4 separate regions of the Homo sapiens genome follow, and all the other regions are reported to be linked to region 3. The links are microRNA targets in miRTarBase. Many come from high-throughput screens and were not tested one by one. Region 3 holds a microRNA gene; each other region holds the end of a gene's coding sequence.
The links. Region 3 holds the annotated microRNA hsa-miR-142-3p (UGUAGUGUUUCCUACUUUAUGGA, at 1,418-1,440, shown strand). A microRNA usually pairs through its seed, bases 2 to 8, with sites in the 3' UTR of a target mRNA and lowers its output. Matches are read on the target gene's strand: a 7mer-m8 pairs with bases 2 to 8, a 7mer-A1 pairs with bases 2 to 7 and ends in A, and an 8mer does both.

Region 1: the mRNA of DTD1 is a reported target of hsa-miR-142-3p. The part of its 3' UTR that is shown has no 7-base or 8-base seed match.
Region 2: miRTarBase lists SLC7A9 as a target of hsa-miR-142-3p. The part of its 3' UTR that is shown has no 7-base or 8-base seed match.
Region 4: miRTarBase lists RAB39A as a target of hsa-miR-142-3p. Seed matches in the 3' UTR shown: 7mer-m8 at 2,608-2,614.

Annotation. Positions count from the first base shown.
Region 1 is chr20:18,744,040-18,747,132 of GRCh38, forward strand. DTD1 (D-aminoacyl-tRNA deacylase 1) reads left to right here. Exons shown (of 6, transcript NM_080820.6): 5 at 61-232. The coding sequence ends at 213. Among named protein-coding and RNA genes, the nearest start is that of DTD1-AS1, 47 kb to the left of the region's middle.
Region 2 is chr19:32,827,967-32,831,059 of GRCh38, reverse strand. SLC7A9 (solute carrier family 7 member 9) reads left to right here. Exons shown (of 13, transcript NM_014270.5): 13 at 376-549. The coding sequence ends at 440. It overlaps TDRD12 (tudor domain containing 12), which reads right to left. Exons shown (of 33, transcript NM_001366102.1): 33 at 1,480-3,093. Among named protein-coding and RNA genes, the nearest start is that of SLC7A9, 40 kb to the left of the region's middle. RefSeq lists an enhancer at 1,504-2,025.
Region 3 is chr17:58,329,592-58,332,684 of GRCh38, reverse strand. It overlaps MIR142 (microRNA 142), which reads left to right and starts at 1,367; the gene lies at 1,367-1,453. All of the region lies in intron 2 of TSPOAP1-AS1 (TSPOAP1, SUPT4H1 and RNF43 antisense RNA 1), which reads right to left. MIR142HG (MIR142 host genes) reads left to right here and starts at 165. Exons shown (of 1, transcript NR_186557.1): 1 at 165-1,797. RefSeq lists a silencer at 1-157 and enhancers at 268-337, 1,138-1,277, 3,068-3,093.
Region 4 is chr11:107,962,058-107,965,150 of GRCh38, reverse strand. RAB39A (RAB39A, member RAS oncogene family) reads right to left here. Exons shown (of 2, transcript NM_017516.3): 2 at 1,669-3,093. The coding sequence ends at 2,779. Among named protein-coding and RNA genes, the nearest start is that of RAB39A, 35 kb to the right of the region's middle.

The sequences.
Region 1 (3,093 bases), not on the chromosome of region 3:
GGGATACACAGGCATGTGTTTGTGTTTGTAAAATATTCTTTTTTATTTTTATTTAATCAGCTGTCAAAGCTCGAAAAACAGCAGCAGAGGAAAGAAAAGACCAGAGCTAAGGGACCTTCTGAATCAAGCAAGGAAAGAAACACTCCCCGAAAAGAAGACCGCAGTGCCAGCAGCGGGGCTGAGGGCGACGTGTCCTCTGAACGGGAGCCGTAGCTCAGGAGGCAGAATTCAGGTAGGAGTTTCCCTGCTTGGCTTCATCTTCCCACATTTTGGGGAAGCAGCAATGAATAGGAGGGAATAGCTGCTGAGGCTGAATTCATTCATTTCACAGCGTTCATCCATAGCTTCCTTAAATCTGCTGCCTTCCAGGATGGAGACAAAAGTTAGTGTGTTAGTCCGTTTTCACGCTGCTGATAAAGACATACCTGAGACTGAGTAATTTATAAAGATAAAGAAGTTTAATGGACTCGCAGTTCCACGTGGCTGGGGAGGCCTCACAATCATGGTTGAAGGCAAAAGGCATTTCTTACATGGCGGCAGGCAAGAGAGTATAAGGGTCAAGCACTCCAGCCTGGTGACAGAGCAAGACTCCATCTCAAAAAAAAAAAACAAAAAACAAGTGAAAGGGGTTTCCCCTTATAAAACCATCAGCTCTTGTGAGACTTGTTCACTACCAAGAGAACAGTATGGGGGAAACTGCCCCCATGATTCAGTTACCTCCCACCAGGCCCCTCATCTTGAATTGTAGTTCCCATAATTTCCACGTGTGTGTTCCTACGTGGGAATTATGGGAGCTACAATTCAAGATGAGATTTGGGTGGGGACACAGCCAAACCATATCAGTTAGCAAATAAGATTGTATTTTATTCATTGAGATGCAGGAGGGTGGCATACCACAGGCCTGGGGTGCCCACCTGGGGGTGGAACCTGTTTGTGCCACCTTCTCTGGCTGCCTGTGCCAGTCCACAGCTGCTGCTGTGATTGCCTGTGCAGAACACTCACTCACCGATACAGAATCCAGATGCAGATGCAGAGTCCACTTGCGCTCCTGCATCTCCCTTCCTGCTCTTAGCCACTCTAGCAAAGGGCACTGCCATCTCAGCAGCCTACTTTCATTGCCACCTGCCCCGTGTTCTGAAATCCTTCACAGTGCCCCGTGTGGCACTGTGAGTTTACTTTTCCTAAAATGGCATTTTATTCTTATTGTGGCTCACTGTAGCACGGAGTCCACCTCCCTGCCTGAACATCAGAGGCCTTGAAAATGTGATGCGGCCATCTGATGGCACTGTGCCTAGTTCCTCCCACCAGGGAACCTGTTTATTTTGCCAAGCACTGGACCAAATACTGGGTGCAGATTTGAGGGACCCAGGACCTGTCATGGGGAGGTCACAGGCTCAGGGAGAAGCATAGGAACAGTTATACTACAGCACGGTGCGTGTGGCAGGAGTGTGAACAGGTGTGGGGTGGAGATGGGAGGTCAGGAGAGGCCCCTCAGAGGCCTGGGACCAGATCTGGAAGGACAGGTGGCAGTGGGGAGGCAGATGAGGGGCAAGGGCAGGGGAGAGCTGCCTGAGCCAAGAGAAGAGCAGTGCAAATGCCATCTGGAGGTTGGGGGGCAAGGACAGGAGAGTTTGGGAATGGAGGAATTGCAGAAGGGTGGGAGTGTTGAGTGCCAAGTGGAGTGGGAGGGCAGGGAGCATCTCTGAACTTAGAGAAATAGGAGGTCTGGATTGTATAGGGTCTGGTATGCAACCCTGAGGAATTTGGATTTTATCCTGGGGCGGGAGGGACCTCTGAAAGGTTTTAAGTGTACAAGTGACATCATCAGATACAAAGTTTAAAAAGAGCACTCACTTGAGCAGCTTTGGGGAGTGAGGCTGGAAGCAGATAGGCCCATTAGGAGGTGATTGCAGAAGTCCAGAGAAAAAATTATAGTAGGAACAGAGGGGAAAGAGTGGGATTGAAAGATGTAAAGGAAATAGAATCATTTCAACGTGGTGACTGATTAGATTGGAAGAGGAGACATCCAGAAGGATGAGGGAGGAAGATGGGGGTTGCTGACGGTACCTATTTTGGGTGTGTTGTGTTTGAGGTGCCTGTTGGCAGCCAATGGTGATGCCAGTCGTCTGCTGAGTCTGTGGCTTTAGAGCTGGGGAGCCAGGTCTCGGACATACAATTTGGAGCCTTCAGCTCACAGACTGTGGTTAAAACCAAGTTAGGAGACAGAATTCACCCAAGAGACACCAAATTATGATAGAAGAACATCCAGAAGGTGGTTTTCAGCCTTCTCTTTCTCTTCTGAAAGAGAGCAAGGGTCAGAAGTGTACCTATGAAATGGCTTTTAGGATCCACAATACCAGGAAGTGAGATATATTAGGCCAGGTGTGGTGGCTTACACCTGTAATCCTAGCACTTTGGGAGGTTGAAGTGAGAGAATCACTCGAACCCAAGAGTTTGAGACCAGCCTGGGCAACATGGTGAGACCCCCGTCTCTTAAAAAAAAAAATTAGCTGAGCATGGTGGTGCTTGCCTATCATCCTAGCTACTCAGAAAGCTGAGGTGGGAGGATTGCTTGAGTTTGGGAGTTGGAGGCTGCAGTGAGCCATGATTGCAGCACTGCACTCCAGCCTGGGTGACAGAGTGAGACCCTGACTCTTAAAAATAAAATTTAAAAAAGATACATTAGTTGTAATTGGGCACAGTGGCACCAGCTCCCAAATGGATACACAGACGAGAGGAACAGAATGGAGAGCTCAGGAAGGGTGGATTGTTGGTTCATAGACAGTTTTAGGGGAGGGGACTGGACAGTGAGTCCTGTTGTCCTCTTAACTGTTCCCTCATCACTGTGTTTTCCTGCTAGTGTTGTGCAGGGAGACAACAGCACTGTGGTGACCAGCCTTGGCTTATGTATCTCACGTATGCATGGGACACTGAAGGGTGCCTCGAAGGGAAGGGACGTCACATAAAACTTCCACTCCCACCCCTCCAAAACTTCATGATAATTCACTTTTGTTAGTGGTCAGTTTTGGCATCACAAATATTGCTGGTGCTTCTGATTTATAGTCTGTCCAGAAATCCTTAATCCAAAGAGGT
Region 2 (3,093 bases), not on the chromosome of region 3:
AGGACAGGACTTGGGCTGTGTGCAATTTAACTCTGGCTGCGGCAGCCTGTAACAGCCAGTTAAGATTTATTAAGTGAATGTGATTAAAAGCCTGCCTGTTTCTCCTGTTCAGCTCATCTGAACTGGAAAGTGCAGTCGTCCCTCCGGACACTCCTAGGAGGTTTTTATTTCTATTCCTGCAATTCTGGGAGAAGACAGAAGCCAGGAAAGTGTGAAATCCAACCAGAAGGCAGGAAAGCTGGCCATCCTGAGCACAGGGTCTAGGTGACGCATCACCAAAGACTGAAAACAATGTCACCCTCACCCACAACAACTCCAGTGAAACTTTCGAATTTCAGTCTAACTAACTGTACTCATTTTTGACTCTTATTTCAGAGCCGATTACCATGCACCTTCAGATGCTAATGGAAGTGGTCCCACCGGAGGAAGACCCTGAGTAACAAGCTCCGTCTCTTGTAGCCAAGTCAGCTGAATTTATTTTCTTAAGCAATATTTGTGGTTATTTCTTCCTTTTTTTCTTACGAATAAAATATACTCAGATGTTTAAAATATTGTTATTTTTAGATATTCTTAGTTCTCTGAGTGGGGGTTCTAGAAAGGGGAAGTGGCAAGTGTTTGTTTGCTAAAGTTGTTGTCAGGTGAGATGTCACCTAACAAACAAGAGGCAGATGCTTAGGGAAGGGCTGAATAAAAGCCTCCATTACAGTGGCAGCTATTTAACAAGGGGCACATCACACTTAAATGAAAGGTGTTCTTTAAACTCAATGTCAATAAGGTCTCTTATATAAAATGGATGACATTTTTGCTTTGATTGATTGATTGATTGCTATAGATTTTAAAACAACAGTAAATTACTGGCCAGGTGTGGTGGCTCACGCCTATAATCTCAGCACTTTGGGAGGCCAAGGCGGATAGATCGCTTGAGTCCAGGAGTTCAAGACCAGCCTGGGCAACATGGCAAAATCATGTATCTAATCTATAAAAAACATAAAAAAATTAGCCAGGCATCGTGTTGCACACCTGTAGCCCCAGCTACTCAAGAGGCTGAGGTGGGAGGATCACCTGAGCCTGGAGTCCAGGGTGTAGTGAGCCATCATCATGCCACTGCACTCCAGCCTGGATGACAGAGACCCCAACTCAAAAAGTAAATAAATATACAAAAATATTAAAGTACAAATGTTTCTCACCCACTCTCCCCTACCCTAAAAGTAAAGTACTGGCGCCCTGTGCTGAACCTGTGATGTGCGTGCCATGTATCTATCTATCTGCCAGGATGAATGGCAAGAGCTGAGCCTCCATCCAGAACCCTCCACAGCCGGTGTGCTCATCACGAGGGTCGCCTGCATTGCCAGTCAGCATCGCTGGCTCCCTAGCAGCCTTCACGGGCGTTTTAGTCAAACCAGAAAGTGTGGTGAGTAAAGTTTTATTCTGTGTTTGGCATTCAGGGAAAGTACTGTTTAAAAAATGTAAAAAGCAACATTTCTGTGAAAACAGTGAAATTTTATTGATGATACACTGCGGAAGACATCCATACCACAACTAAGCATGAGCGATTTTAGAAGCATAGAGACAAAGGCACTTTCACCTTGCATTTTAGATATTTGACCAAAACTTGAAATCAGACATATTCATAGCAGTACAGAAAACCAATGACTAATTGTTCACATAATCAGCATCCTATATCCTACAAAATGTTAGCTTCAGATATTAGAACATTTGAATGTCTGAAAAAAGAAACAGATCTAAGCATGCAGTTGTCCTCCCTGCATTTTCACGAGTGCACAGGAAACACATTGTCACTAGCTATTATCATTTGCTGTGCTGTATGAAAGAGACTCGGCGCACCTGGGTGTAAACAGCAGGCAGCTGGTGCGCACGGGGCGCCACTGGACGGCGGCCTGGTCTCTGCCCCCAGAGCTCCACCAACAGGGCAGCAGCCACATGCAGAGAAACAGACACTGATATGGGTGTTAGAAGAGCTCCACAGTCAAAACCTTCACCAGCAAAAACACCAGAACTTTCTACTTCCCAAGAGCCTGCCCAATTTAGCTACAAAAAAGGAAAATCACCATCTTCCTTCATGGGCTGATTTGATACCTGCCAGTCACCCTGCGAAGGCCATAGCAGTGACCTGGGCACACTCCCGGCAGCTGTCCTGGCTGCACAGCGTGTCCTCCCAGGGGAGGCCAGGGCTCTGAGCCCCCATCAGAGCCACTGGGCAGAAAAACTGCCCAACCCAGCAGCACTCGGCGGGCGCTCCCTGAGACAAGGCCAGGCCACACAATGAGGGGATGTCTCATTTTACAGATGAGAAAACTGAGCCAGAGTGTGATCCAGACCTGCTCACAGGACAGCTTGATGACAAAGTTCACCTCTAGTTCAAGCGGTGGCTTCTGCTGGGACATACATAAGCCTGGGCATTGGCGCTTTCTGATACAAAAAAATAATAAAGATCTTGGGGCCGTCACACAACACTCATGTTCTATCCAAATTCTTTTCCATTCCGAGGCAAAGCTGATAAACAAGACACAGAGTGCACAGGACTTTTAATTTCCCAATAGCTCACCTTTCTCGCTTTTTCAGTCAACAAAGAAACCCAAAGCACAAAAGCCAGCCTCTGGGTGTGGCCATGACTACATACACTCCTCCCCTAAACCTGGTGACCCCCCCCAGTGCTGCAGCCACAATGCAGATGGGGTGGCGAATGTCTGCAGGGCTCACGACATGTAGGCATTCAAAGATCACCTCCAGGCACCCCACAGGCCCTTGTGAATTTCCACTAAAAAGCAACCTTTGTGCCATTTGCTCAGGACTCTGCAGGTCCAAGGGATTGTTTAGAACCAGCAGCTTCACCCCGGAAAGGCCTGGGTCTTACTGAGCAATCCAATTTCTATCCCTGGACTATCTCTTCATCAGAAGTCAACTTACTCTGAGGAGCTATCACTATCCAAGAATGCTAACACTATCAATTCACATAGATGGTTATGTTAAATCCCACTATCTCATGGTTGAAAGGGCTGGTTCAACAGTTGCTGAGTCTAAGTGTGTACATTAGAAACCTCAATTTATATGTGTAAGATCAGGTTTGTAGCA
Region 3 (3,093 bases):
CCCCTTCTGTTTCCTGTCAGTCTGTCCTCCCCAGGGAGGGAGGGAGGGAGGGCGCTCATCCCCTGCGGGCGGGGGCGGGGCGCGCTCTGAGACCGTTGGGCGCCCTGAGATCTGGCCCACGTGGCCTCGGGGTTATAAGCCCTGCCCTCCCTGAAGGGAACCCCACTTCGGAGCCTGGAGCACAGGGCGAGCTCTCCTCCGCCCTGCAGCCTCAGGTAAGGATCCGGACCTTCACTGCTGCCCCAACTGGGGCTCCTCAGCTCGGGGCCTCTAGGGGCTTGGGCTGCTGGTCTGGGTGGAGGCGCGTTGGGGGTGTCGAGGAGCTTGGGTGCAAGCCCCATGCGGGAAGCTCAGGGCAAAGCGCCTTGAAACCCTCTCTAGTGAAGGAAGGTAAAATGGCTCCGGGACCCCAGGCGGGGAAAGAGGTGTCCAAGGAGGAGGGCTGGAGAGTAAGGCGGGGATGGCAGAGGGTACGCAGAGGCTGAGAAGTGGGACCAGTGTCTCAAGGGGCGCCAGCCTCTTCCTCCGCCCAACATGGCCACCATTTTTGTTGGGATAGCCTTGGGCTCCTGCCAGGGGAACAGCAGGGCAGTGAGGGAGTCAGGACTTTGGGCTGGTGGGGAGGCCGAGAATCAAGGCTCTGGGGAGTCAGGACTTTGGGGCTGGTGGAGTGGCTGGGGACTGAGGCCCTGGGGGGTCAGGACCTTGGGCTGCTATGGAGGCTGGGACTGAGGCTCTGGGGGAGTCAGGACCTTGAGCTGGTGGGGAGGCTGGGAATTGAGGCCCTGGTGTGTTCAAGACCTTGGGCTGGTGGGGAGGCCAGGGCCTGAGGCCCTGGGGGGTCAGGACCCTGGGCTGTTGGGGAGGCTGGGGACTTAGGCCCTGGGGGGTCAGGATCTTGGGCTGGTGGGGAGGCTGAAGGGTGGGGACTGAGGCTCTGGGCAGTCAGGACCTCACGGTTGGGGTGGACTGGAGACCAAGACCTTGGCAGGGGAGCTGTGGCTGCCTCATTTGGACGCTGGAGGGTGGCTAGCGTGGCTGGAAGCGGCCAGCCAGGGGTTCACAGAACTGAAGGTGAGGCCTCCAGAGGCCCTAGTCTCTACCTGAGTGTCTCTGAAACTGGGGGGATGGGGTGGAGCCTTTAGGGGGAAGGGAAGAGGGAACTGAAGAGGAAGTGGGGGAGGGAGGTAGAGGAGGCAAGTCTGGCGCCATGCTGAGTCACCGCCCACAAGGCCCAGGGCGGGCCCTCGGGGGGCCCTGGCAGGGTTGGGGGGATCTTAGGAAGCCACAAGGAGGGCTGGGGGGCTCTTGGAGCAGGAGTCAGGAGGCCTGGGCAGCCTGAAGAGTACACGCCGACGGACAGACAGACAGTGCAGTCACCCATAAAGTAGAAAGCACTACTAACAGCACTGGAGGGTGTAGTGTTTCCTACTTTATGGATGAGTGTACTGTGGGCTTCGGAGATCACGCCACTGCTGCCGCCCGCTGCCCGCCACCATCTTCCTCGGCGCTCGGGGACCTCGTGTGACAGGTGAGCACCTTACGGCCCCTCCCTACCCTGCCCAGATGCCTGAAAGGCCTCCATGGCTTTCCTGCCCTTCCTGGTTCCGGACAGCTGGGGAAAGGCCACAGCAGCTCCTCTGCTGCCCTGCAGTCTTTGGGGGCGGGGAGGGCTGGACATGTGGAACCCTGATGCAGCCGCAGCGTCAAGGACGAGGAAGGGGTGGGAAGGGATGGTACGTGGAGGGGAATGGGTGGTGGGACCAGGGACCCAATGCTAATAAAGACTGGACTGTGCTTCTCTTTTGTCTGAGACTCTGTTGCTGGGGTGGGGAGCTGAATGCGGGCGGCAGGCACATGGACAGTATGGGCGCACAGAAGGGCTGGGAGGGAGAACCTCTGTCGCTCCTCCAGAAGATACGGGTTTGGCCCTGCCTATGAGATCAGAAGAGGGCTCTGGGCCTGGCCAGGCCACAGCCGGAGGAGAGAAGGGCCTGGGCCATCTGCAGAAAGGGGCAGGGATGTAAGGCATCCTCTCACCTTCTACCCTAGCTCTGGCCCTATCCTGCCCCCCTACATACCCAAACTGAAAGCTGCCTACATCCAGTTTTAATCTAAGAAAGTCTAGGGGGTCCTAGGTCATATAAAAATTGGGCAAAATCCACTGTGGCACATACACAGCATCTTAGACAAGGGCACAGACACTCATATACAAAGCACACACTGAGATGCAAATGCATTTACACACAGAGGCCCCATTCAGTGTGCCAGTAACACACACACAGACACATGTGACATGACTGGCATGACACACACAGGGATTACACACACCCAGGGCACATACATATTCAGTAGTACACACATGCAATGATAGAAACATAGGGCGTGTCTTACACATAGAAGAGCACACACATACAGTGACATTTGCATAATAAACACGGTGGCTCCATACACATACATAGATAGAGACATGTTCATATATCATGATAAATATAGAATACATAGATACATGGTGATATATATATATAAATCAAACCATGTCATTATGCATATTTACATGACGATATGAGCATGTCATATATTGTGTAATCAATTACTACATTGTGCCATATAGTAGCATCCATATCTATATATATCATGATGTGTTGTAATTTATAAACTCATGCAATGATAGCCTCCCATGCACATAACAGCACACACATAGACACAGTGGCAAACAAACATAGATGCAATGACACAGAAACATACATACAGATACACCCAATGTGTTTTTGTTACGTTTTATTATGTGACTCATAGACACATAATAGCACACACATATATACACACAATGGCCCCTTCACATATACAGAAATAGATAATGTCTATTCTATAGATGCATACTATACACACGCATGCGCATAATGGCATGCATATATACTCTGACCTAAACAGCAACACATCATGCAGTGGCGTGCGTGTTGACCTACACACTGCTTTAGGGAAGTGAAGATGTCCACTCCTCCCCATGCACCCCCTACCTCCAGTTCCATTGGCTCTTGCCTGGGTGGAGCCCACAGTCAGGGGCTCTAGGGTTCAGTATCACCGCTGCTA
Region 4 (3,093 bases), not on the chromosome of region 3:
AAATATTAGTCTCTCCTGACATTAGTATTATAAAGGGTGTCCACTGAAATTTAAATCATATTTTATGTTTTAGCTATTTAACTTTAGAAGTAGGCACAGGTGACTGTACTTTCAACTGCTAAATTTTCAGTGTTGGGGTTTATGCCATTTTGGACTGATGGGAAATTGTCATATAATATTGAAAACTGTAACAGTAAAATGGACTACTTCACATTTTGGGGGACAAGTATTTTCTCATTTGGTTAATTACGGTTTGAACTCATGTGAAATTAACCTAATGATATCAAGAAAATGCTGACAATATAAATAGTCATACCTTATATAGTTATAATTTATAATCTCTCCATAAGCACAATTAAAAATACATGAACCCAGAAAATGTACAAGTATTTGAAAATACAATTAAATATTTACTTCAAAGATGCACAAAAAGCACAAACGTGACTTTTGATTGGGTTAAGTCTGCAGGAACGTCCCTCTCTATTATTTCCACTTTGCAGGAACAATAGCTCAGGGTAAAAAAAGCAGAGGAAGCGGGCGCAGGGGCTCATGCCTGTAATTCCAGGACTTTGGGACTCCGAGGCAGAAGGATTGCTTGTGCCCTGGCATATGAGACTTGTGCCCTGGCGTATGAGACCTATACCCTGGGCAACATAGGGAGACCCCTTCTCTATAGAAAATAAAAAATTAGCCAGGCGTGGTGGCGTGCACCTGTGGTCCCAGCTAGCAGAAGGCTAAAGTGGGAGGCTCGCTTGAGACTGGGAGGTCCAGGATGCAGTGAGCTGTGATCATGCCACTGCGCTCCACCCTGGTCAACAGAACAAGACCTCGGCCCCCTCGCCCCCCACCCCCGCCAAAAAAAATAAGCAGAGGATATGCATCAATCAAGAATTCCTACGGGTCCATGAAGACACACATCTTTTTCTACTCCCTCTGCATAGGAACGAAAGGAAAAATCATGAGAAAACAAAATTCTCACCCATTGTAAATATAATAGTATGCCCATGAGCAGCATATCAATCTCAAAATGCTTACTCTATTTACAAAGTGTTTGTTGCATCATTCACTAGATTCTCAAAATAATTTTCCATGAAACACACTAATAAATGGGGTTATTAGCCTAATTTTACAGATAAGAAAAATGGTGCTTAGAGAGGTCAAGTGACTTACTCATGGTTAGATATTGGTAACCAAGTTTTCTGATTTCTTATTAAATATTCTTTCTACTATGCCACTTTGGTTTTCAAACAAATGAAGCAACTAAAGGTTAAGAGTAAAAACCTTATGATTCCAAAAAACTTCACTTGGTACTCTTTTGTGATTAAGAGTAGTTTACAGAACAGAATAGAAATGTACATTATAAAATATTTGACACTATGATCAAAATATCCCTTCCAGGAGAGTTTAATCAATAAGTTAAAAATTAGGAAACTCAAAAGTCATTTTACTGTCTTAATTGATTATTCTATCTTAACTTGTACTGATGAGATTGTAAAATGCAATTTGAAGGCTAAATATATCAAGCATCTAACCAATTTTTCTTCCCCAGAAAAATCTTTTCTGCATTCTTTTCATATTGGAAATTAGGAAATTTGGAAATTTACTTGGACAAAAATGCTATTATTAAAAACATTCCATGTTTACCTATATTAATAATTTTGACAATAGTTCAAAGTAAATTGCATTTACTTTCTTTGAAAATGTCAATACATAAATAAATTTTGTTCTTCTTGTCTAAATACGAACAGTACACCGTAACAGCAAAACATGTGCTGCTGATAGTCCAGGCACGGCAGCTCATGCCTATAATTCCAGCACTTTGGAGGCCGAGGGGGGCGAATTGCTTGAGGCGAGGAGTTGGAGACCAGCCTGGGGAACATTATGAAACCCTGTGTCTACTTATAATACAAAAATTAGCCGGGCATGGTGGCGCACATCTGCAGTTCCAGCTACTCAGGAGGCTGAGGTAAGGTACTGACAATCACCTGAACCCAGGAAGCAGAGGTTGCAGGGAGCCAAGATTGCCCCACTGCACTCCAGCCTGGGTGACAAAACAAGACCCTGTCTCAAAAAAAAAAAGCAACATTTCAAACATTTGGTGAGCGGTCCTCCGTTTTTAATTTTACAAATATTTGCTTAAAGTAGTTTGCTTGGATCCTTAGATATCTTTGTAAAACATAATGCATTTTTAGAAGCAATAAATTAGGGAACAAAAATGGACATAAAACTTATTTTCTTGTGTTGAGGCAAAATTAAGGGAGGACAAACATTTCCAGAGAATGGGGAAAAAACCTGGTACTTTATATAAGGAACTGCTATTTACGTCCTAGTCGATACTTCTGAGATTGTTTACTCTGCAGGTGAACAGTGCATATTTAAATGCATTTTGCTATTCAATATTAATTAACTCAAGAGAATGTAATTCCTGATAAAATCTTTTCAATTGACTATATATGCACAAAAATCCATTTGAACTGTCAAGAAAAATGAGTAATAGTGACATATCTGGACACTAAGGTCAGCGTATGCTAACAAAGTAAGAATGGAGGTAATTTCAAGAAAAAGATTGTCTGCTTTGCTTGGTAATTTAGCAAAATACCCAATCTAGTAGTGTAACAAGTAAGCATCATGCTCTGAATCAAATACCTTATAAAATAGTATTGGTGTGGGTTTGTAACCTTTTTAAATTCTTTCATTGCATCATTCTGCTGTTAATGTTGGTATTTATCCTGAACTGACACCCAATCTGTTCCTGTTAGTTCTTCAGCATGTTTGAAGTCAGCAGAAGCATTCTTTCCTGGGCTTTACTGCTTCCTCAGAAGAATGCACAGTATTTGGAACAAAACCACTTTTAACCCCTTCCCAGCCATCCTGAATACAAATTTCTCCCTTTTTAATAAGTTCATATATGTCTCTCGTCAAGATTGTGAAGGATTCTTCAACATTTGTAGCATCCTTTGCTGAGGTTTCTATATACTTCATTCCACAGTCTGCTGACAGTTTTTCAGCTTCTTCCCTTGTAACTTGACGTTGTGAAGCTAAATCACATTTATGTCCCACTAGCAGAAATACAATCCGAAATGGCTGTACATA